Regions from separate parts of the Homo sapiens genome. Here all the other regions are reported to be linked to region 5. Evidence: microRNA targets listed by miRTarBase, many of them from high-throughput screens and not tested one by one. Region 5 holds a microRNA gene; each other region holds the end of a gene's coding sequence.

Region 1 (4,116 bases), not on the chromosome of region 5:
TTGCCCCCGCACCCCCACCCCCGCTGCCTAGGGGTTTTGGGAAAGCCGCGGGAGTGGGAGGGAATGCGGGAGGTGATTCTTCCAAAGCCAAGTCTGCAGCTCGAGCCTCAGTTTCCCCATCTGGAATTCGCCTTCCCGCTGACATCTCCGTAGCGAAGCCTAAGAAATTGGAGGGCTCATCCTCTTCTTGCGGGGGTCAAGGGGACTGAAAGGACGTGCAGGAAATGAGATCCATCGCAGACTCAGCTCCCCTCCCTCCTTCCTGTCGGTGCTTTTCCACTCACTCGCCTGCTCTCCCATCTCCCCGCCCCCTCCGCCTGCCTCCTCGAAGCACTGTGGGATTCCGAGGTTGCTGCAGCCAGAGAAGCTGCAGAAAAACACGGAGCTGGGGGTGAAGGGGGACTTAAAAGGGGAACTACCCGGAAGGACCCAAGAACACAAAGACAGAGCCACTGCGGTTATCTGGCTGGTCAGCAAGGGTATGCGGCTTCCTCCGCGCTGCGGAGGCTCCCAGAGCCAGGTCACCCATTCTGCCAGCTCAAGTCTGTTGTCATGGGAACCAAACCTTCCAACTTAAGAATCTGGGGGCGACTTTCTAGCGTGGGAGGAAGGGTGGTGTGCACGGTTGCTGAGATGGAAGCAGGGTTTTGTTACTCAGAGCCAGGCTGCGGAGGGGCGGGGTGCCGGGCGCCTGGGTTCTATTCCAGGCACAGCAGCAGACTGGCAGAGCGCGTGAGCAGCTGTGGTTTGTCCCCTAATTGGTATGTGTGCCTATAAAGCTCTGAACCAGAAAGGCGTGGCCTCCGGGGGGACGGGAGGGAGGCGGCAGGCAACCCATCCCCACACCTCAGGCCATACTGAGGAGGCAGCTGCCCAGGCTCCAGGGCTATTTAAAAGGCTTTTATTTCCAGTTCCAGAGCCCGCCCGAATGGGTTTGTGGTCCTCTCCAGGCCTCTCCCTGTCTATCCTGGGCCTGCTCATTGCTGGTCTGGCTTTTTTGTGCAGGTCATAACGTGCTCAGACAAGTATGGCTCCAAGTGGCAAGTCATCTGGAGCATGACCTCAGGCTCCCAACCTCTGCTGGGCAGGCTCAGGTTTCCACCCCAGGGTAAACCCCTCTACTCTGGAATGTGGTCTGTGGCCACCAACAGAGCAGAGGGGATGAGAAAATGGGAGCCAGATGCTTCCCTCAGCAAGAGACACAGGTACTGCCAGGAAACCTTGCGTGACATCTGGGAACATGAAAGGTTCCAAGTGAGTTCCAAAAAAGGGCTCCAAACCAAGTAGCAGCAATGTGGAAGAGTCAGGGAGCTGAACCAGGCGCCCACTCCTTTACTGTGGCCAAACGGCCCTGAGGTGAGCTCTGGTGGGGCAGCAGCCACCATGTATTAATCATCTCTAGCCCTGTGCCCAAGTAAAGTGTCTGGCACCTTTAGCTTTTTCACAGTGATTTGTCAGGTCAACCAGGGATTTGAGGCAGGAAAGACTAGAGGAGCCTGGACTAGAGTGAAAAGAAAACAGCTCAGAAATTCACACAGGAAGCTGTAAGGCAGTACTGTTTCAATGCTTTATTAACAGTTGGAAACAAAACCAACAAACTGGAGGTGATGACATCCCAGAAGCCTATGAGGCAAGGGAAATAGGTTTGCATTTTGTCCCTCACACCTCTCTCTCTCTCTCTTTTTTTTTATTAAATGCATCTTAGCAAAAGTAGATTAAAAAAGAAAGGGTCAAAGCCCCAGATGTCAGCGAGCAGGGAGGAGGTGACCCAGGGGAGCAACAGACGCCCTGCATCAGAGTCCTCCCAGGAATAGTCCAAAGGAGCTGCTCTTGCCCCTTTATACACAAGCGCCAGCAACCAAAACCCTCCCTCCTGGCAATAAGGCCTCACTATAGTTGCCCTCATGCTTCCTAAGCTCTCTCTTGCTCTAATAACTCTAATTCTGGGCCAAGCCCAAGAGTGCCATTCTTTCTTCCTAGCTGGGGATGGAAAGCTGAGAGGGGCACAAGGAGGGCAAAAGTATCACCCTAAGCCAGAGAATTGCAGCTTCCTGTGGTTGGGGCCACCAAACAGTTCAGTGTGCCCACCCACTTCTCTTTTAGAAGAGAGCTGGGGTACAGTGTATGAAGGCACTCCTGGTGCCCAGTTCCCCAGAATGTCCAGTTAGCATCTGCACATTTGGCTTGATACATTTATACATTTATAAAAAACTCTGTGGTCTTAGAGTTCCTGCTACTCTTAGGCCTGGCCCAGCTCAACCAGAGAAGGGGTTCCTCCTGTGTCGGATTCCCTGGGAGAGAGGATCTGCCTTGGACTCAAGGGTCCAGAAGGTCCAGGGGCACATTCAGGATTGGGCCTGTGAGAAGAAATCCCAGAACTCTGTAACCTGCCACCAAAGCTTCTTACATTATGGAGGGGAAAGGGGGAAGGAACAGTTTTCTTTAAAAAAATTTTTTTTTTCATACAAAAATAGATCCATTTGCAAAACAATTTCTCAGCCAGGAGGCTCCACCTCCCATTTCCTTGTAGACAGAGGGTGAGGTGTTGGGATGGTCACAGTACAACCCATAGTCCAGATGAGATGCACCAAAGCTCAGGGAAGGCATGAGGAGGGAAGGTGGCTCAGTAGCCTGGGGTTGGTGCAGAGCGTCCAGAGAGGCAAGGGCATAAAGCGTGGCAGAAGCTGGGGGCAGGTCCCACACTGTCGCTATGCCCTGCCTGCCTGCCCACAGGCTCTGGCCTGGGCCACAGCACAGCAGGGAAACTGGTCCAGATCCTTTGCTTTGGAGGCCTTTCCCAGGAAGGTGGGGTAAAGGTGGGATTTGCTCCCTGCTTCCTTAGGAGCAGCTCCCAGTGCCACACCACTAATAATAAATAACCACAGCCAGGAGAGGGAAGAGCAGAGACAACAGCAATGAAAGGAGGGATCTAGCCCAAAGGTTTACAAGCCCCATGCTATTCTCAGGGCCAGAGAAACCACAAAAGAAAAGCACAAATCCAGCAAGACTGACCTAGGGGGGAAAGCCCATTAGAAAGTCAGGGCTGAGAAAAAGCAGGCTGGGCCTTGTCTGAGATGAGGCCCTCTGAGTAACAGAGAGGAGACAGGGTTAAGGCAGCAAACATGGACCCTGCTTTGGTAATACAACAGCCAGGGCTGGCTAAGTCGGGCTCAGGCCTCCCCTGCACTGCCCTTTCCTTCTGGCCTCCAGGCAGCTGAAGCTGTATGTGATGTTGAGAGAGCAGCAGGCCAGAGAGAAAGACAGGGTCAGGGTGGTGGGAGTGGCCACCCCAGAGGAATATCCCCTTGAGCCTTTAGGCACATGCTGCAGGGCAGGACAGTCTGCGGCTCCGCTGAGGAGCTGCCGCGGTCACAGGACCCACATTAGCTTGCACGGCCAACCAACTCCTTGGCTTCCTCAAGGATTGTGGGGAATGTCTCACTGTTCTTGGACACCTTGGCAGGAACAGCAGCCATGGCATCATCCTTGGTCAGCTCCGAAGCTAGCAGAGATGTGACTGCACACCCGGCCTTCCTGTTGGCTGCAAGAGAAGACGAGAGATTCTGTCTATGGAAGGCCTCATTTCTAATTTCTTTCAAACTCTACAGCAGATAATCAGCGTAAGCCATGCAGACATGACTACCTTGGCCACTTCACAGAGGCCCTTACTTTGAAGAAAGGGGCAGAGATCCAGCATGTGGAATATATTGTTGGGTGGCAAAGAATGTAAGAGAGTGTGGTGCAACAGGAAAGCAAGCCTTGCCCCCTTGCTTCCCTGTGTGAAAACAGCACAAAAGTTTGAACACAGACAGACAGAACTGGGCTGAAGTGTTAGCTATGTGACTTAAGGAGAGATGAAGTATTCAAAGTCTATTTTCTCGTAATAGGGATGTTGGAATTAAATAGACTAAAGTTTAGTACATAGTATTATTTTTGTTTTCTTGACAGGTCCCAGGAAACTCCTAGGCCAAAACACTTCTCAGTCAGCCCTGGGAGGGTTGTCCCTAGCAGAAGGCAACCTTCCGTAAGTGGCTGGAGAGACTCCCGCAAAGAGGAACAGCAGCCACGCACTGACACCGCACTCCCACGTGTTCCTCCAACAACAGATGCCCACAT
Region 2 (4,116 bases), not on the chromosome of region 5:
CTGCTTTCATTCGGGGCCCACACTCACTGGCCACTCCTCCTGCTTGCCAGAACTTCCTTCACAAGTGGGACCCCCGCAGCCACCTGCAGCCCCTTGCTGGGACCCCAGAGGCCACCTACCAGATGACTGTGGAGCTCCTGTTCAGGTGTGTGGGTGGGGAAGGCGCTTCTGTCTGGCCCCCTGGGATGGGAAGCCAAGAGCTGGGGGGTGGAGGGGTTGAGGCGGCGGGCAGGCCCTGATGACTGTCCTCCCCCTCCGCCCGGTTATCTGGCTTTGGTCCTGTGCTCTAGGAGAGCAGCTCAGAGCCGGGATCGGGGCGGCTTCTTCTTCCTGCCACTGGCGTCATAGCCTTTGTCCTGCTCTCCTGCTCTTGGATTGGGCATATTTAAGGCACCATCCTTCAGGGTCCATTGGATCCTGTTGGATGTAAACAAGGGACCTGAGGAAAACGCACCCATCTCTTCTCCTGGCAGCTTTGAGATGGTTCCTCTGCTAGTCCAGAAAAGTGACCACCCAGAGGCAGCCCTGCTGTGGGGCCTCTGTGCCTTCCACCAGGGGCTGCCGAGTTGCTGCAGCCAAGCCCTGCGGTCCTGCCAGCCAGTGGGAAGACGTGGCCCCTGGGCTTTTAAGAATGCCGTGTAGATATTTCTAGTGGCTACATCCATCCTGAGGCTCATCTGAGTCCCCGTGTCTCTGTGTCCCTGTGACACTCACTTCGCATGTGTTGCTAAGCTCTGCTCCCTTGTTCTTGTGGGCAGGCCAGGGTCTCCCTCCTTTAGAGGCCCCTGTGTGCATCTTTCCTCAATTCCACAGGGATATTCTGGAGGAGCCCGGGGAGGATGAGCTCACAGAGAGGCTGAGCCAGCACCCGCACCTGTGGCTGTGCAGGTGACGTCCGGGCTGCCGTCCCAGCAGGGGCGGCAGGAGAGAGAGGCTGGCCTACACAGGTGCCCGTCATGGAAGAGGCGGCCATGCTGTGGCCAGCCAGGCAGGAAGAGACCTTTCCTCTGACGGACCACTAAGCTGGGGACAGGAACCAAGTCCTTTGCGTGTGGCCCAACAACCATCTACAGAACAGCTGCTGGTGCTTCAGGGAGGCGCCGTGCCCTCCGCTTTCTTTTATAGCTGCTTCAGTGAGAATTCCCTCGTCGACTCCACAGGGACCTTTCAGACAAAAATGCAAGAAGCAGCGGCCTCCCCTGTCCCCTGCAGCTTCCGTGGTGCCTTTGCTGCCGGCAGCCCTTGGGGACCACAGGCCTGACCAGGGCCTGCACAGGTTAACCGTCAGACTTCCGGGGCATTCAGGTGGGGATGCTGGTGGTTTGACATGGAGAGAACCTTGACTGTGTTTTATTATTTCATGGCTTGTATGAGTGTGACTGGGTGTGTTTCTTTAGGGTTCTGATTGCCAGTTATTTTCATCAATAAGTCTTGCAAAGAATGGGATTGTCATTCTTCACTTCAGCACAGTTCTAGTCCTGCTTCTCTGGAGTAGGGTTGTTGAGTAAGGTTGCTTGGGTTGTGCATTGCACAAGGGCACATGGCTGTGAGGTGTATCCTGGCGGGGGGCTGTCTACCTGCAGTGAGGGGCACCTTTTCTGTTTTGCTCAAAGGCATGTATAAGCCAATGGGTGACCTTATTTCCTGTGTCTTCAGGTGTGTGGCAGGGGGCCTGGGGTGGGGAGGTGGGGCGAGCGAGCAGTGTGTGGAAAGCCTTGTTGTCACCTGAAGCACGCCAGGTCCAGATTGACCAATGGTTTTCTCACTTCAGGGGCCAACCCACGCCCCCTTTCTGCTGAGGTTTGGGTGCCATCTAGTGGTGGGATGGGACTTGGTTGACTACATTTAAGGTAAGGTGGACCCAGCAACTCCCAGAAACAACTCCGGGGACACCACTCCCCATCACACTCCACACCGAGCCTGGTGCCCGGTCTGTGCCCGAGCTCAGCGGGACCAGGAAGGGATGGGCCCTGCCAGGGTTGCCCCTGCACTGTGCATTCTCGCCTGGGAGGCACAAGTTCTTTCATCTGCTTTTCCTTCAGAGGTGCTGAGCCCACGCCATAGCCCCTGTGGGATGGTGGGGGAGGGGGCGACCCGAACAACAGTGCAGTCGGTATCGAGATTGGGGAGAGGAGCGAGTCCAAGGAGAAGGTCATGAGTTTCTTTTTACTCGTGTTGAATAATAACAATAACAATAACAATAACAATATGGAAACCACCGCAAACTTGGAGAAAAGTTGTAAGCACAGTAAAGAGAAGCTTCCTTCTGAGTCACTTGAGTGGTTGCCGTTCTGGCCCTGCACCCTCTGTGCTTTGGGACGGCGTCCAACCCGCATTCATGTCAGGAGTGAGTCGCACGTGGCTTTGTGGTCATGGCGACTTAATCCGCCTGGACGGTGGCTCCGTCTCCCTGGGCTTAGACGACCTTGGCACTTCTGGAGATAAGCCCATGGCTCCCAGGTTGTGTTCATGTGACGTTTCCTTGTGGTAGGTTCTGGGTCTGCGTTTCGTCTAGGAGTGTCACAGGATGGACACTGCCTCCTGGCAGGGGCTGCCCAATGCAGTTAGCCTCCTGCTGGTGTTCTCTCTTGTTGCTTGGTGAAGGTGGCCCTGGTCAGCTTCTCCACTGCCCAGTGAACGACCCCTTTGTAATGAATGAGTGGGGAGGTAGTGTGAAGCGATGCCAATATCCCATCCCTGTCAAACTGCCTTTACTTTTTCCTTCCTTCCTTGCTCCCACCTGTGTGGATCCTGGTCCCTTCTTGTATTCAGGGCTGTGGTCTGTTATGACATTTACTCTCAGGCTCAGGTCCTGCTTGTTTGGCCCGTGGGAGCCCCTTCTTCTGCCTTTTGTGTTTTTTTTGTTATGTACCTACAGTTCTTTAGCTGTTTCTTTACTTTCTGGTGCAAAAAGATGTTCAAGCCTTATTTTATACTTGCCTGCCCCTTTCTCTTTCATTTATTGGAGTGAGCTGCAGCTCTAAGAAGACCTGTTCTTTTGAATGGAGAGTAGCATCAGGAACCAGGATGTGGGTGCGAGGCGTGCTCCTGGCTGTTGCAGATTGCTGCACCCGGGAGCTCTTAGTGGACAGAGCTAGAGGATATGTGCACGTACTTCCATCTCTCTCTCTGTCTCATCTATTCACAGCTGGGAATGATACTAATACCTCCGATTTTAGCCCAGCACCACAGGGTACGTTCCAGTTTTTCTCTCTTTCCATAGCTGTAAGGCCCTTTCTGGGAATGGTTCTCATTCTCCTTAATCTATTATTGGGTCAGTTTTCCTGCATGTCCCCAGCCTCCCATCACTGCCACCCACTCCCCACAGAGATGCCCTGCTCATCCGACTGGGGCTTTGACTCCCACACTGTGTACCCCTCTTGTGTGGACGCCCTGCTGCCAAAACCTTCAGCAAACAGCTTTCCAAATGGAAGTTGTCACTGTCAGGGCCTTTACAATCAGCAACAGCAAAATCTACATGCTGCTGAGGGTCCTGCCTCATTAAGATGCAATAAATATGTAAGTACATAAAAACAGCAATAGAAGAAACGTAATGCTTTATTCTCAAATATGATGTCTACATAGAAAAGCCAAAATTATTAAGAATAGTAAGAATTCACCCAGCACTTTGGGAGGCCGAGGCGGGTGGATCATGAGGTCAGGAGATCGAGACCATCCTGGCTAACAAGGTGAAACCCCGTCTCTACTAAAAATACAAAAAATTAGCCGGGCGCAGTGGCGGGCGCCTGTAGTCCCAGCTACTGGGGAGGCTGAGGCAGGAGAATGGCGTGAACCCGGGAAGCGGAGCTTGCAGTGAGCCGAGATTGCGCCACTGCAGTCCGCAGTCCAGCCTGGGCGACAGAGCGAGACTCCGTCTCAAAAAAAAAAAAAAAAAAAAAAAAGAATTCAGCACAGTTGTTTGCTATGAGATTTAAAAAGTTTTTACTTTATTACTTATTCATTTATTTATTTTAGGGTCTTGCTCTGTTACCCAGGCTGGAGTGCAGTGGTGTGATCATGGCTCACTGCAGCCTCCAACTTGTGGGCTCAAGCAGTCCTCCTACCTTGGCCTCCTGAGTAGCTGTAACTACAGGCACATGCCACCAGGTCTGGCTA
Region 3 (4,116 bases), not on the chromosome of region 5:
CTGCGCCTCTTGGGGCTCCCACTCTGGTGGGGGAGACAGATGTGTAGGTCACACTGACAAGCTCAGTGACAGGGGTGTAAAGGTGTCATCTGGGAACCAGGGGACTACTGAGTGGCAGGGAAGACTTGAGGATGTGGAGGATGAATAATGACTATAATATGAGCTGCTGTTTACTGACCACCCACTCTAGCCAGCCACGGTTCCTCACACATAATCTCATTTAATCTGAGGAAACTGAGGCTCACAGATACATATATGTCCAAGGCTACACAGTTAGTGAGTAGTTCAACCAGGACACCACTCCAGGTCCATCTAACTTTAGAAACTTGAGACTACCAGACCCCTCTATTCATGTGCTGGTCAGACAGGTAGTGATATCCAGTCACAACTGTGGCTACCATTCATTGAGCAGTTACTACAGACCGGGTCTAATGCTAAAGGCCCTGCTGATTATCACCACCCCACACTGCCCAAGCATCCCTCCAGCAGCTAAGAGGGAACAGGTACAAATCGAGTCTCTGCCATCAATTTCCTTCTGAGCCTCAGTTTCTTATCTGGAAAATGGGGATCATGATACCTGTTTTTCAGGGCTTGCGTGAGGTTTAGAAATAGTGCATGTGAAGTACTTGGCACAGAGCGGGCCCCTGATAAGTGGTACTTAGTATCGTTATTCCAGGCAAAGACTGTAAATGCTGGAGAATCTGAAGGGCCAGGGGTGTTTGGCTGTTGGCAGAATCACCCAGCCAGGGGAGACCTGATGGAGGAGGGTCAGCAGTGGACAGATTGTAAAGCGTCTTAAATCCCAAGGGCTGAATGGTTTGAACTTGGTACAGAGGGCAGTGGGAAGTGCCAATGGCTTTTAAATAGGGAAGTCCCTGCCTGGTCCCAGGTTCTGGGGATATGGGCATTAGCTAGACGTCCATGTTTGCAGGAACAACCCTGCAAAGACATAATTACTTCTGGAGAGATGTCTGCAAAGGAAAAGTCCGCCAGGCTCTGGGCCCATATGCACCCTGACCCAGCCTGGGTTGGAGAAGACCTCGCTAAGAAAACAGCTTGTAAACTGAGCCCCAAGGAGAAGTGGGAAGCAGCAGCAGGAGCTGGGTGCAAGGCGGGCCTAAGAGGAGGCCTGTGTGTGACGGGAGTGAGGGGGTGGTGTGCAGGCTGGGGACGTAACAGTGGAGATCTGTGTTCGGAAAGAGCTTTCAGAGGCAGCATGGGGGACAGACCCGAGGGACAGAGGCTGGAAGAGACCAGTGTGGAGGCTGAAGCTGGATCTGAGGCAGCAGAAGTTTATGGGATGGGAGAAGGGAGGCTTCTTGGAGGAAGTGTCGGTCGGGTAAAGCTGGAAGATTGAGGAGACAGGTTCGGTCCTTGAGCTCCAAGGCACTGCGACCCAGGCTACAGGCCAAGCCCTACGTGCTCTGTACATTTAGCGCAAGAACTCTCTTTCACGTCGCCTCGGGAGCTACTGCACGTGGCGGCTGCCGCCCTCTGCCCAGCCCAGCCTAGCCAAGCCTGGCGGTCCCTGCCCGCTGCAGATGCTCATTTGCATTCATTTGCATACTGTTCCCCGCCCCTCTGGGCCCAGCTGCCTCTGGCCCTCCAGCCCGCGCCGCGCCCCCTGCCGGCAGCAGACGGCCCCGCAGCGCAGTGCCGCCCCCTTGGCCCGGCGCCCCCTTTCGACCACCGAGCGCGGGCCGCCCTGGGCCCGGGTGCCAGCCCGGTACTTACCCCCGACGCGCGTGCCCCGGGGCACGCGCTCCTGAGCCCGCCGCTCCAGGCCCTCCACTGTCGGGCCCCGGTGTCCTCCAACATCTCTCCTGACCCCTGCGCCCGCTCGGAGCTTCCACCTGCGGCGCCTTTGCTCCTTTCCCACCCAGCCCTCCAAGGGAGCGCGGCAGGGCCCGCCCGATAGCCCTCTCTTCTGGGAGGCCTTCCCGGACACGCCTTCCCGAAGCCCTCGGCTCCCCACGCCTCCGTGATTCCCCACTCCACCTTGCCCAGGCGGGGGCAGCAAACGTCAGAGAGCCCGGGGGCGCCTCTGAATCTTGCGGGTGGGGGCTCGGGCAGGCTCCTCTCACTCCCCGCCTCCCCTCCCGCCCCCAGGCCATTTACAAGATGGTTTCGTCCGTGATGAAGATGCCGGAGGACGAGTCGACCCCGGAAAAGAGGACTGAGAAAATCTTCCGCCAAATGGACACAAACAACGACGGTGAGGGGCAGGGGCGGGACGGGGTGGACGGGGCGGGCGCCTTTCCCTCCCTCCCTCCCTGCCTCCCTTTCCCGCTCCGCCTCCCCTCGCTAGGCTGCCGCCTCCTCCCCCATCACCGCTCCCCTCGCCCTGCAGGCAAGCTGTCCTTGGAGGAGTTCATCCGCGGGGCCAAAAGCGACCCGTCCATCGTGCGTCTGCTGCAGTGCGACCCCAGCAGCGCCTCCCAGTTCTGAGAGGAGCCAGGTTCCCCTTCCTCCCTCCCTTCACCGGCCCCCTCCCGGCTCTTAGCTTCCACTCCCTTGTGTGTATTCTGGCTGGGGGCCAGATTGGGGAAGCCCTTCTCCCCGGGTCTGCCCTGTGGGGGGCTTCCGGAAAAGGGAACCCTGCGGTACCCCCAGGCCAAAGCAAGTAAGCGGTTAGCACCCCCCAATCCCAGAGGCAACAATAGAGACACAGGCTGGGTTGGTCTGCCCCTCAGTCAGGCCCCCTTACCCACCCACCAGCCCCAAGGCCCGACCCCTCCCCCAAAGGGGCAGTCCCCTTCTTGCAGGTCTCAGCTTGCGGGGTGGGGGGAGTCATGCCCAGGGGAGGAGACTTTTTATCTGGAGGGGAGAGAAGGATTCTAGGGGTGTGGAGTTGGAGAAAGAGGCTTCCTTGAGCCACCCTTCCCACCCCAGCCCTTGCTGGTCCCTAGGCCAAGCCACCAAGTGAAACCTTCCAGGATACTAGCCCGCCAGCTGTGGGCCCCAGAAAGCCAGCCTGCCTTTTAGCACTTGGATACACACAGACCCACGGAGCTCTCTGTGTTTGGCCTCTCACACACACACAGGCCCATAGACAGATGGGCAGATGCACCCAGAGCCCCATGCACAGTGTCCTGCGTGGGAAAGAGACACGGTCCCCCTGGCTGAGCCCCTGTCCTCCCCTCTGTCCCCCCAACCGCCCCCCCTGCATGCAGCCAAATGGAGCATCTCTGTTCTTTTTAATAATTTCAGAATAAAGTCTCATTTCAGTGCAGTGGGCTGGGTGGTGGGGGAGAGGGTTGAAAGCCCCACTTGGGTCCCCGAGGGTCCATTGAGCCCTCTCAGGCCAGCTCCAGGAATCCTGGCCTGGTCACAGAGCAGAGTTGCTTGCAGGGTCCTAGTGGCCATCGGGCCTGGGCAGGACATCATCTCTCAGAGGGTCAGAGGCTCAGAGCTGGTGCAGCTCAGCAGGTCACGGCCCTCCACCAGCTCTGGGTTCTCCCGCATCTGCAGAGACACAGGAGGCTGCCAGACCCACTGGTTCTCAGCCTGGGTCTCCTCCTCCAGGACATCCGGGAAATGGAAGGAGGTGAGGGCTGGAAGGCTCTCTGGGGGCAAAGGGGCATCACTACCCACTCCACTGCAAGAGCCAGGCCTGACCTTTGCAATGCCCTCAGTGCGAGCCCAGACACCCCTGCCCCTCCCTCAAGACTCATCCTGGGCCCTAGGAGAGCCAGGTGTCAGCTGTGTGACTCTGCTGGGAGATCTCACCTCTCCCAGCCTCCAGGCCTCTCCCTTTGCTCCTGGGGAGAAAACTTCTGCCCCATTTCTCAAGGTGGGGGCCCATACATAGGGGTGGGGCAGAGCAGCTTGGGCACCCTGGCAGGGGCTCCCAGGAAATTCGGGGAGTCAGGGCTGTGGAGGGAACTTACCATGTGGTGGCTGCTTTTCCCCCACCAGGGCCTCAGCTCCAGCAGCTGGTGGGTGAGCTGAGCACAGCGTACAGCAAACACGTTCTCCGCCACGCAGAGCACTAGGGCGATGCCCCAGAGGCACAGGCTGGAGCTCTGCGGGGCATGGGGCAGAGATGGCTGGCTGGAGTTGGGGGTGGAGGGTGGATTCCAAGAGCCCTTCCCACCCGTGCGAGGGCCTGGTGCC
Region 4 (4,116 bases), not on the chromosome of region 5:
AAAAATATTCTGTGATTCTGAATACAGTATCTTTGAGAGTAGAATAAAATTAATAATTTTATCTGTTAATGTACCAAAAAATGTCATAACATTAAAAAGAATATTTATTTTGCTTGCCAGCTCTATAGACAAGTGGTGTCCCCAGCCGGTAGCACTCAAGTACCTGTATAAATTTTATGTTTGTGCATCCTTCTGGACCCACATATTTCCAGTGTTTCATTGTTCAATTTGTTGCTATTATCATAACTACACATGATATAACCTTTATACCATCAATATATTTTTCTCATCATGTCTTAATGTATTTTATGCCATTTTAAAAAATGTTTTTCCTGCTGAATTTCCTGCTCAAACAGTATGATCACCGATGAACTGATATTTACACATAGGCTATCTCATGTAGATTTTTTATGGTAAATTTTTGCTTCTATTTGTATTCACTGCAGTTAATAGATTTGTATTAATCTGAGGTTTTTCTGTGTGTTTTGATTTTTAGAACCGAACAATATTTTGGGAGTCCAAGTGACATGGCTTCTACTGCAGAAAACATCAGAGACAGGATGAAACTAGTTAATCTCAAAAGGCAGCAGCTGAGACATCCTGAAATGGTGACCACAGAGAGCTAATAGCTACCAGCTACCTACAGATTTGCAGTTCATAATCCCGCATGTTGTCAACATACTACAGCATTAGCCACCACACCTTAAGATGCATTTCACAGCCAAAATAAGTCTCATTTCTTTTCATGACACATTTCTCTTTACATGTTAACACCTTGCTACTACCAAGGCATAATTACTTAACATGCTTCGAGGCTGTAGATTCCAAGTATCTTAAAAGAAGGAACTATAAACATTGCACTGAAAACTTGCTTTAAAGCTTTACCTGACCTGTCAGTTTGTAGACAAACAACTGATAATAAGCTTTGAATGGTGCTAATAAGAGTAGGAATTCTCTCTATTAAAAAGAAAAAAAAAAGTTGCCCTTCCTCCACAGGTGATTTAGTAAATTTAGACAGTAGTTAAACTCTTGTTAGTAGACAGTGGTGTCCTCAAAATTTTACTTTGTAATTCTTCAGAATTGATTATTTTTATTGTGTCAATACAGAGAAAGCCTTTCAGATCTTTGATATATCATAGTCATTAAAAGACCTTTTCCTATTTGTATTGATAATGTATTAAAAGTTGTTTGTGCTTAATAAAAGACTTCTTTAAACATCTTATTTAATTTAGTAGTTACATCCTATTTCCAAACATGAGTGCCTTATTTAAAAGGGCATTCTTAGGACTGTGAGGATGGTTTAATATTTGTTTTTTCATGGTGGTTGCATGTATTTTAGACAGGAAATACATATGTAAGCATGTGTATATAATAAATAAGCATGTTTTATCATGAAAAATTATTGTGAACAATTTAGATCTTTAAGAACTTATTAATAATGGAATACTATTTCTAATTTTTCTCTTTTTCAACTTGAAAAATATTCTCAAAATTATTAACTACCCTGAAGATACTTTGTCTTTAGGGGAGGAGGGCTGAGGAAGAAGGCATACATAATTACTTCAGTGTAATCCTTTATATCAGAGTAATCTTTCAGGAACTAAAATAGCAATTGTTAATAAAATTTAGTTTCTCATTATAGTCTAAAAGCAAAATAAATTCTGAAGTAGTCCAATAACAGAACTGTATGACCCCTTTAGAAATAAAATTTATCATGAAATGCTAGTTCTTTTAAGTTTGTATTAAGTTTAAATGGTAAAATGCATATAATTTAAATTTTATGTATTTTTATTTCAGAACATTTTTTAAAATATTAAAAATTATTTTTTAGTCTTGTAGTCATTACAAAATTATAAACGAGTTGTATACTGGTTCCTTTTTGAGGTCTACAAACATGCTCGTGTATCTTCCAATGCAAAAAAAAAACCCCTCCCTTTTAACCTGCTAGTTTTTCCAGCCTTCTTCACTGACTGACAGACTTCTTGGAGAAATCCACATCCAGTGCCCCTACATCCTCATCACTCACTACTCAGCACCTTGCAGTCTGGTTTTACACAGCACTCTACTGAAACTGTTCTTTTGAAAGTCAGCAATGGCCTCCCAGTTACCAAACTGAATGGTTTTTTTCTCCGTCTGAATCCCTTACCCTTTTCTCTGCAACATTTACACCATTGAGCAACCTTTCCTAGACAGTGTCTCCTTCCTTGAAGATGCTATCCTCTGAAATAACTGTGAGTACAGTCGCATAACCCTAATTTAAGATGTGCCTGCTGAACATGTGCTCTCTCAGATCCTGTCCTCAGAATGCTTTTGGCTCTTTTCTCGGTATCTCATCCTTAGAGTTTTTATTTTATACCAATGTTCTGGATTACATACCTGGTCCAGAAATCTAGACTTGTACTTCTTTTTAATTGCCTAGTTGACATTTCAACCTTGATTAAAGATTGACAATATTTATCACCTTTTCCTCCTGGAACAATTTAGGTTAATGGTGCAGCCTTTTTTCCTAGTCAAACATGCCAGGAAGTTCAGGGCAAAGTTCAACTGCTCCCTCTTGTCTTATGTGGTCACTGCTTCTGAGAACATCCAGGAAGTTCTTTCTATACTTGAATCATCTTCTCAGTCCTTTGGGGCTTTACTGCTATGAGTATGAACTTTTGTGATTATTTATTTCAGTCTTCATGATGGTGCTATCACATTCTACAGTTGTTTATGTCTGTACCCAGTAAGCTCTTTTGAGGGAAGGAATCTTGTCTTCTCCTATTCCCAGTCTTGCTCATGCATAACAGATGCCCATTCCTCCTAAATATGAATGCTGTATTATAGGCATTAGTAATAATCCCTGTTACATTGCAGTCTGAAGTATGTTTTAAACATACTTTTTTAAAGTTAGAACTGACTTACAAGTGAATCTATTCTTAGATTCTTAGATACTAACTACTTTAGATATTTAGTTATACTCAATAACTAAATATCAATACTCAATATCTGTTTCTTCTGAATTTCAGAGTAGTTAGAATGTTTTTCTTAAGACTTTGCTAGAAAGGAACTGGTTTGTTAGTAATTCTGCCATCAACTCATGGAGTTATAATTGCCAAATGAGTTAATTTTTATATACCTTAAGCTATCTTGCCTACAAAAAGTAAAATAAGGCAGGATTCATAAATGTTACTTGTAAATTGAGTGTTTCACATGAGGCCAAGTATGATTTTAACATAATGAATATCATTGCTCCTCATCTGTAAATTTGCTGCTGCTTTCATATGTGTATCTGTACATAGAGTTATGAATGAAAATCCAGTAATGCCCTAAAGCAACTTTCTTCCATAGGGTCAAAGCTCACTTAAGGTAAACGTGTGAAAAAAGTGACTGCAGTGTGTTTGAAACCACAAGCTGTTTCTATGTCATAAATTAACATCAGCTTGCAAGTCTCTGAAAGAACCACTCATTTGTAATTGGTATATATGTCACAACCTCCCACATTCCTTTAGCCCATCTCAGGGAATTATTGAAACGCTGGCAGGGTTAGTTTCATTTTGTTTTGGTTTTTTTGGGTTTTTTTGTTTGTTTGAGGATTTTTTTTTTCTTTTATCATTTGTTTGCTCCTGTGTAAGCTTAATATATAATGGCAGTTTGGCATCTGTTCTTCGCACATGTCTAACCCAGCAGAGTTATGCAAAAATGATGACTTCATTTTAGGTCAAATTGGCTTTGTTCCCAGTCCTCATTGTTGGTCACTTTGTTCAGTTCTGGTGACTCATTGGTGATGTTGATGAAACTGCTCAGCCTGCCAGCTGGGATATTGATGGCAGGTCTAGGCTTCATTGTTAGGTAGAAGATTGAATACTTCTCACTTTATACAAATTTACATTGGCTATTGCTCCCATGTGTTAGCTAGTCTTAACATGTTTGTTATTTCGTTATCTTATTAGCTGACATACGGAGTGGTATTATTAGTGTCGTACTCCTTAGCGTGAGCATGACAATTAAGTTACCTTACTAACAGTGATGAGTAAACCATACTCTGATCTAAACCCATTGTTACCAATGATGTGATTATGAAGTTAGCTGAATCTATGGTCTACATTTGAAGAAATAGTTCAGAATTCTCTACTA
Region 5 (4,116 bases):
TTTGTATGTTTAGTAGAGACAGGGTTTTGCCAGGTTGGCGGGGCTGGTTTCCAACTCCTGACCTCAGGTGATCCACCCACCTCCATCTCCCGAAGTGCTGGGATCACAGGCATGAGACACCGCACCCAGCCGTGAACAGTATGTTTATATCTGCCTTTTTATTTATTCAGTTGTCATTTTCCTGCTTATTAGTAGTTATTTATATTCTAGGGAAATTAATTTTTTGTCTGTAATATAAGTTGCAAATATATTTTCAGCTTGTCAATTGAATCACAGCAGTTCTAATCCCACTTTCTTCCTAGTTATGGTCAACGAAGTGCCAGAAATTTTTGGTAGCCCTTTTACCCTACCCCATTAGAGAGTTCTGCTCAATTGCAGAGCAGTACTACATGGCGACTGAGATGCTTGTTAATATCTGATTATTAAAATTAGACAGTGATAGGATTGGGGGCTGGGCACGGTGGCTTACACCTGTAATCCCAGCACTTTGGGAGGCCAAGGCTGGTGGATCACTTGAGGTCAGGAGTTCGAGACCAGCGTGGCAAACTTGGTGAAACCCGTCTCTAGTAAAAAAACAAAAATTAGCCGGGCATAGCGGTGCACACCTGTAATCCCAGCTACTCAGGAGAATCACTTGAACCCGGGAGACAGAGGTTGCAGTGAGCCGAGATTACACCACTATACTCCAGCCTAGGAGACTGAGCAGGACTCCTTCTCAAAAAAAAAAAAAAAAAAAAAAAGTGATAGGATTGGAAGACCCTTTATGTAATACTCTTTCTTGGCTGGGCATGGTGGCTCATGCCTGTAATTTCAACACTTTGAAAGGCTGAGACAGGAGGATCACTTGAGCTCAGGAGTTTGAGACCAGCTTGGGCAACATAGCGTGACCCTATACTAAAAAAAATTTTTTTAAATTAGTCGGGTGTGATGGTAGACGTCTTTAGACCCAGCTTCTTGCAAGGCTGAGGTAGGAGAATTGCTTGAGTCCTGGAGGTCAAGGCAAGCTACAGGGTCTTACTCTGTAGCTCAGGCTAGAGTACAGTGGCATGATCGTAGCTCGCTGCAGCCTCAACCTCCCTGGCTCAAGGAATCCTCCTATCTCAGCCTCCCCGGTAGCTGGGACTGCAGGCGTGCACCACACCTGGCTAATTTTTGTATTTTTCGTAGAGACAGGGTTTTACTGTGTTGCGCAGTCTGGTCTCGAACTCCTGGGTTCAAGCGATCCGCCCAGCTCGGCCTCCCAAAGTGCTGGGATTACAGGTGTGAGCCACTGCACCAGGCCTGAGGCTGCTTTTTTTCTTCTTCTTTTACCTCCTACTCCAAATGCCTCATGAATTCTGAAATTCTACCTTTAGGCAGAGGACAGTGCCCTTTTCTAGGGGTGGGGCTGAGTTCTGCTAAGGCAGGCCCAAGGAGAGGCACATAATGGTGATTCTCCACGTGGTGGTGCTGACTTCAATGCATGACTCAGAGGTCTGGAGGAAGCCAGGTTAAGGTTGTTCTAGGGCCAGGCATGGTGGCTCATGCCTGTAATCTCAGCAGTTTGAGAGACCAAAGCAGGCGTATCTCTTGAGGCCAGGAGTTCGAGACAAGCCTGGCCAACATGGTGAAACCCTGTCTCTACTAAAAATGCAAAAATTAGCCAGGTGTGGTGGGGCATGCCTGTAATCCCAGCTACTTGGGAGGCCGAGGGATGAGAATCACTTGAACCCAGGAAGCGGAGGTTGCAGCTAGCTGAGATCGTGCCACTGCACTCCAGCCTGGGCAACAGAGCAAGACTCTGTCTCAAAAAAAAAAAAAAAGGTTGTTCTGGGTGGTCTGGAGATTTGTGCAGCTTGTACCTGCACAAATCTCCGGACCACTTAGTCTTTAAATGGAGAAAACCTGTTCCTCCTTGAAAAGAACTTTAATTTTTTTCTCAGAGGTCTTCCAATCCAAGTAATAAAAATGACAAAATGATAAAAGTAATAACAAATAATTATTTATGAAATCTAAGATGTCATCAACTATAGCTGTGCCACTATTTTTGCATCTCTAAGAAAAAATGCTGATTAAACTAATCACTGCTTATTACAAACTTTTCTCACATATCACTCTTGTGCATATGTAAAATAATTTTTCCTTAAATGCCAAACATAGTATGATCTTTTAAAAGACATTTTTAAGTGGCATTTAAAACATATAATAATAGCTGTGTGCTGTGGCTCAAGCCTTTAATCCCAGCACTTTGGAAGGCTGAGGCAGGTGGATCACATGAGGTCAAGAGTTCAACACCAGCCTGGCCAACATGGTGAAACCCTGTCTTTAGTAAAAAATACAAAAATTAGCCGGGCATGGTGGCACATGCCTGTAATCTTAGCTACTTGAGAGGCTGGGGTAGGAGAATGCTTGAACCCGGGAGGCGGAGATTGCAGTGAGCCGAGATTGTGCCATTGCACTCCAGCCTGGGCAACAAGAGCGAAACTCTGTCTCAAACAAAACAAAACCATGTAGTACCATCAAATACTTTTAACTGAGTTAAAATGACAATATCAATAACTTACACTAAATTCAACATGTACAGGCAATGTGACTATCTCTCAACCATTTGGCTGAGAACAATTGTAAGATATCAGGCATAAATATGGGAGGGGAAATGTATATGTTGGAATTAATGCATTGCTGTATGGACTTAACTAATTTCAAAATGTTTTTACACATGATTACATTTAATCTTCCTGGCAATCCTGAAAGTAGATTGTAACTTCTTTCTAGATAAGGAAACTGAGGCTTAGAGAGATTAAGTCACTTGCCAGAGATCACAGTTAATAAGCAGCAAAACTGGGGCTTAAAGCCTAGACTTTCTGCTCTATCCAATTGTTTCAGCATTTGACCTTATCCACGGGGATCTTGTTGTTATATCAGAGCAGATGACTGGAATAGCTGCAGGAAGTGAGGTCTGCTCTGATTTACAGCTTCTTCTGATAGAGTTGATTAAAAGCAACTGCTGGCAGAAATAGGTATGCAGACTGTTTTTTTGGGTTTGTTTGTTTTGAATCTCGCTCCGTCACCTAGGCTAGAGTGCAGTGGCGTGATCTCAGCTCACTGCAACCTCCGCCTCCTGGGTTGAGGCGATTCTCGTCCCTCAGCCCCCCGAGTAGCTGGGATTATAGGTGTGCGCCACTATGCCTGGCTGATTTTTGTATTTTTAGTAGAGGTGGGGTTTCACCATGCTGGCCAGGCTGGTCTTGAACTCCTGACCTCAGGCGATCCACCCACCTCGGCCTCTGAAGTGCTGGGATTACAGGCATGAGCCACTTCACCCAGCCCAGAACTGGTTTTCTTAAAGATTAAAAGTGGCTGGGGGGCTGGGCCTGGTGGCTCATGCCTGTAATCCCAGCATTTGGGGAGGCTGAGGCCAGCAGATCACTTAAACTCAGGAGTTTGAGACTGGCCTGGTCAACATGGTGAAACCCTGTCTCTACGAAAAATACAAAATTAGCCAGGTGTGGTGGTGTGCATCTGTGGTCCCAGCTACTCAGGAGGATGAGGTGGTGGGATCACTTGAGCCCTGGAGGCGGAGGTTGCAGTGTGACAAGATCACGCTACTGAACTTCAGCCTGGGTAACAGAGGGAAATCCCATCTCAAAAAAAAAAAAAAGAAAAAAGAAAGTAGCCGGGCTGGTGGCTCATGCCTGTAATCTCAATACTTTAGGAGGCTGAAGCATGAGGATCACTTTAGCTCAGGAGTTTGAGACCAGCCTAGGCAACATGGCAAGACCCCATCTCTACAAAAATAAAAAAATTAAGCCAGGTGTGGTGGTGTGCACTTACATAGTCCCAGCCACTCAGGAGGCTGAGACAGGAGGTTTGCTTGAGCCCGGGAGGTCAAGGCTGCAGTGAACCATGATGAACCATGGTTGTACCACTGGATTCCAGCCTGAGCAACAGAGTGAGACCCTATCTCAAAAAAAAAAAAAAAAAAAAAAAAGCTGGGCACTCACTTTGGGAGGCCGAGGCAGGTGGATCACTTGAGGTCAGGAGTTCGAGACCAGCCTGGCCAACATGGTAAAACCCCATCTCTACTAAAACTACAAAAATTAGCTGGGCATGGTGGTGGGTGCCTGTAATCCCAGC

What was found. Region 5 holds the annotated microRNA hsa-miR-1293 (UGGGUGGUCUGGAGAUUUGUGC, at 1,811-1,832, shown strand). A microRNA usually pairs through its seed, bases 2 to 8, with sites in the 3' UTR of a target mRNA and lowers its output. Matches are read on the target gene's strand: a 7mer-m8 pairs with bases 2 to 8, a 7mer-A1 pairs with bases 2 to 7 and ends in A, and an 8mer does both.
Region 1: miRTarBase lists DIAPH1 as a target of hsa-miR-1293. Seed matches in the 3' UTR shown: 7mer-m8 at 3,270-3,276.
Region 2: the mRNA of TPCN2 is a reported target of hsa-miR-1293. Seed matches in the 3' UTR shown: 7mer-A1 at 3,312-3,318.
Region 3: miRTarBase lists TMEM54 as a target of hsa-miR-1293. Seed matches in the 3' UTR shown: 8mer at 3,239-3,246.
Region 4: the mRNA of SESTD1 is a reported target of hsa-miR-1293. The part of its 3' UTR that is shown has no 7-base or 8-base seed match.

The regions. Positions count from the first base shown.
Region 1 is chr5:141,513,468-141,517,583 of GRCh38, forward strand. DIAPH1 (diaphanous related formin 1) reads right to left here. Exons shown (of 28, transcript NM_005219.5): 28 at 1,554-3,541. The coding sequence ends at 3,384. It overlaps LOC124901091 (a long non-coding RNA gene), which reads left to right and starts at 3,541. Exons shown (of 2, transcript XR_007058971.1): 1 at 3,541-4,116. RefSeq lists enhancers at 67-692, 238-357, 693-1,318, 1,098-1,347, 1,319-1,944 and 2 more.
Region 2 is chr11:69,087,062-69,091,177 of GRCh38, forward strand. TPCN2 (two pore segment channel 2) reads left to right here. Exons shown (of 25, transcript NM_139075.4): 24 at 51-145; 25 at 814-3,536. The coding sequence ends at 892. Among named protein-coding and RNA genes, the nearest start is that of MIR3164, 5.9 kb to the left of the region's middle. RefSeq lists a silencer at 1,692-1,831.
Region 3 is chr1:32,891,415-32,895,530 of GRCh38, forward strand. It overlaps TMEM54 (transmembrane protein 54), which reads right to left. Exons shown (of 6, transcript NM_033504.4): 5 at 3,891-4,025; 6 at 3,181-3,465. The coding sequence ends at 3,391. HPCA (hippocalcin) reads left to right here. Exons shown (of 4, transcript NM_002143.3): 3 at 2,110-2,215; 4 at 2,351-3,232. The coding sequence ends at 2,448. Among named protein-coding and RNA genes, the nearest start is that of HPCA, 7.0 kb to the left of the region's middle. RefSeq lists a silencer at 1,579-1,758 and an enhancer at 4,002-4,116.
Region 4 is chr2:179,106,409-179,110,524 of GRCh38, reverse strand. It overlaps SESTD1 (SEC14 and spectrin domain containing 1), which reads left to right. Exons shown (of 18, transcript NM_178123.5): 18 at 497-4,116. The coding sequence ends at 626. Among named protein-coding and RNA genes, the nearest start is that of CCDC141, 58 kb to the right of the region's middle. RefSeq lists silencers at 2,517-2,717, 3,797-3,997.
Region 5 is chr12:50,231,898-50,236,013 of GRCh38, reverse strand. It overlaps MIR1293 (microRNA 1293), which reads left to right and starts at 1,802; the gene lies at 1,802-1,872. The region is part of intron 2 of LIMA1 (LIM domain and actin binding 1); the gene reads left to right. RefSeq lists enhancers at 157-656, 657-1,158, 3,596-3,645 and a silencer at 1,360-1,499.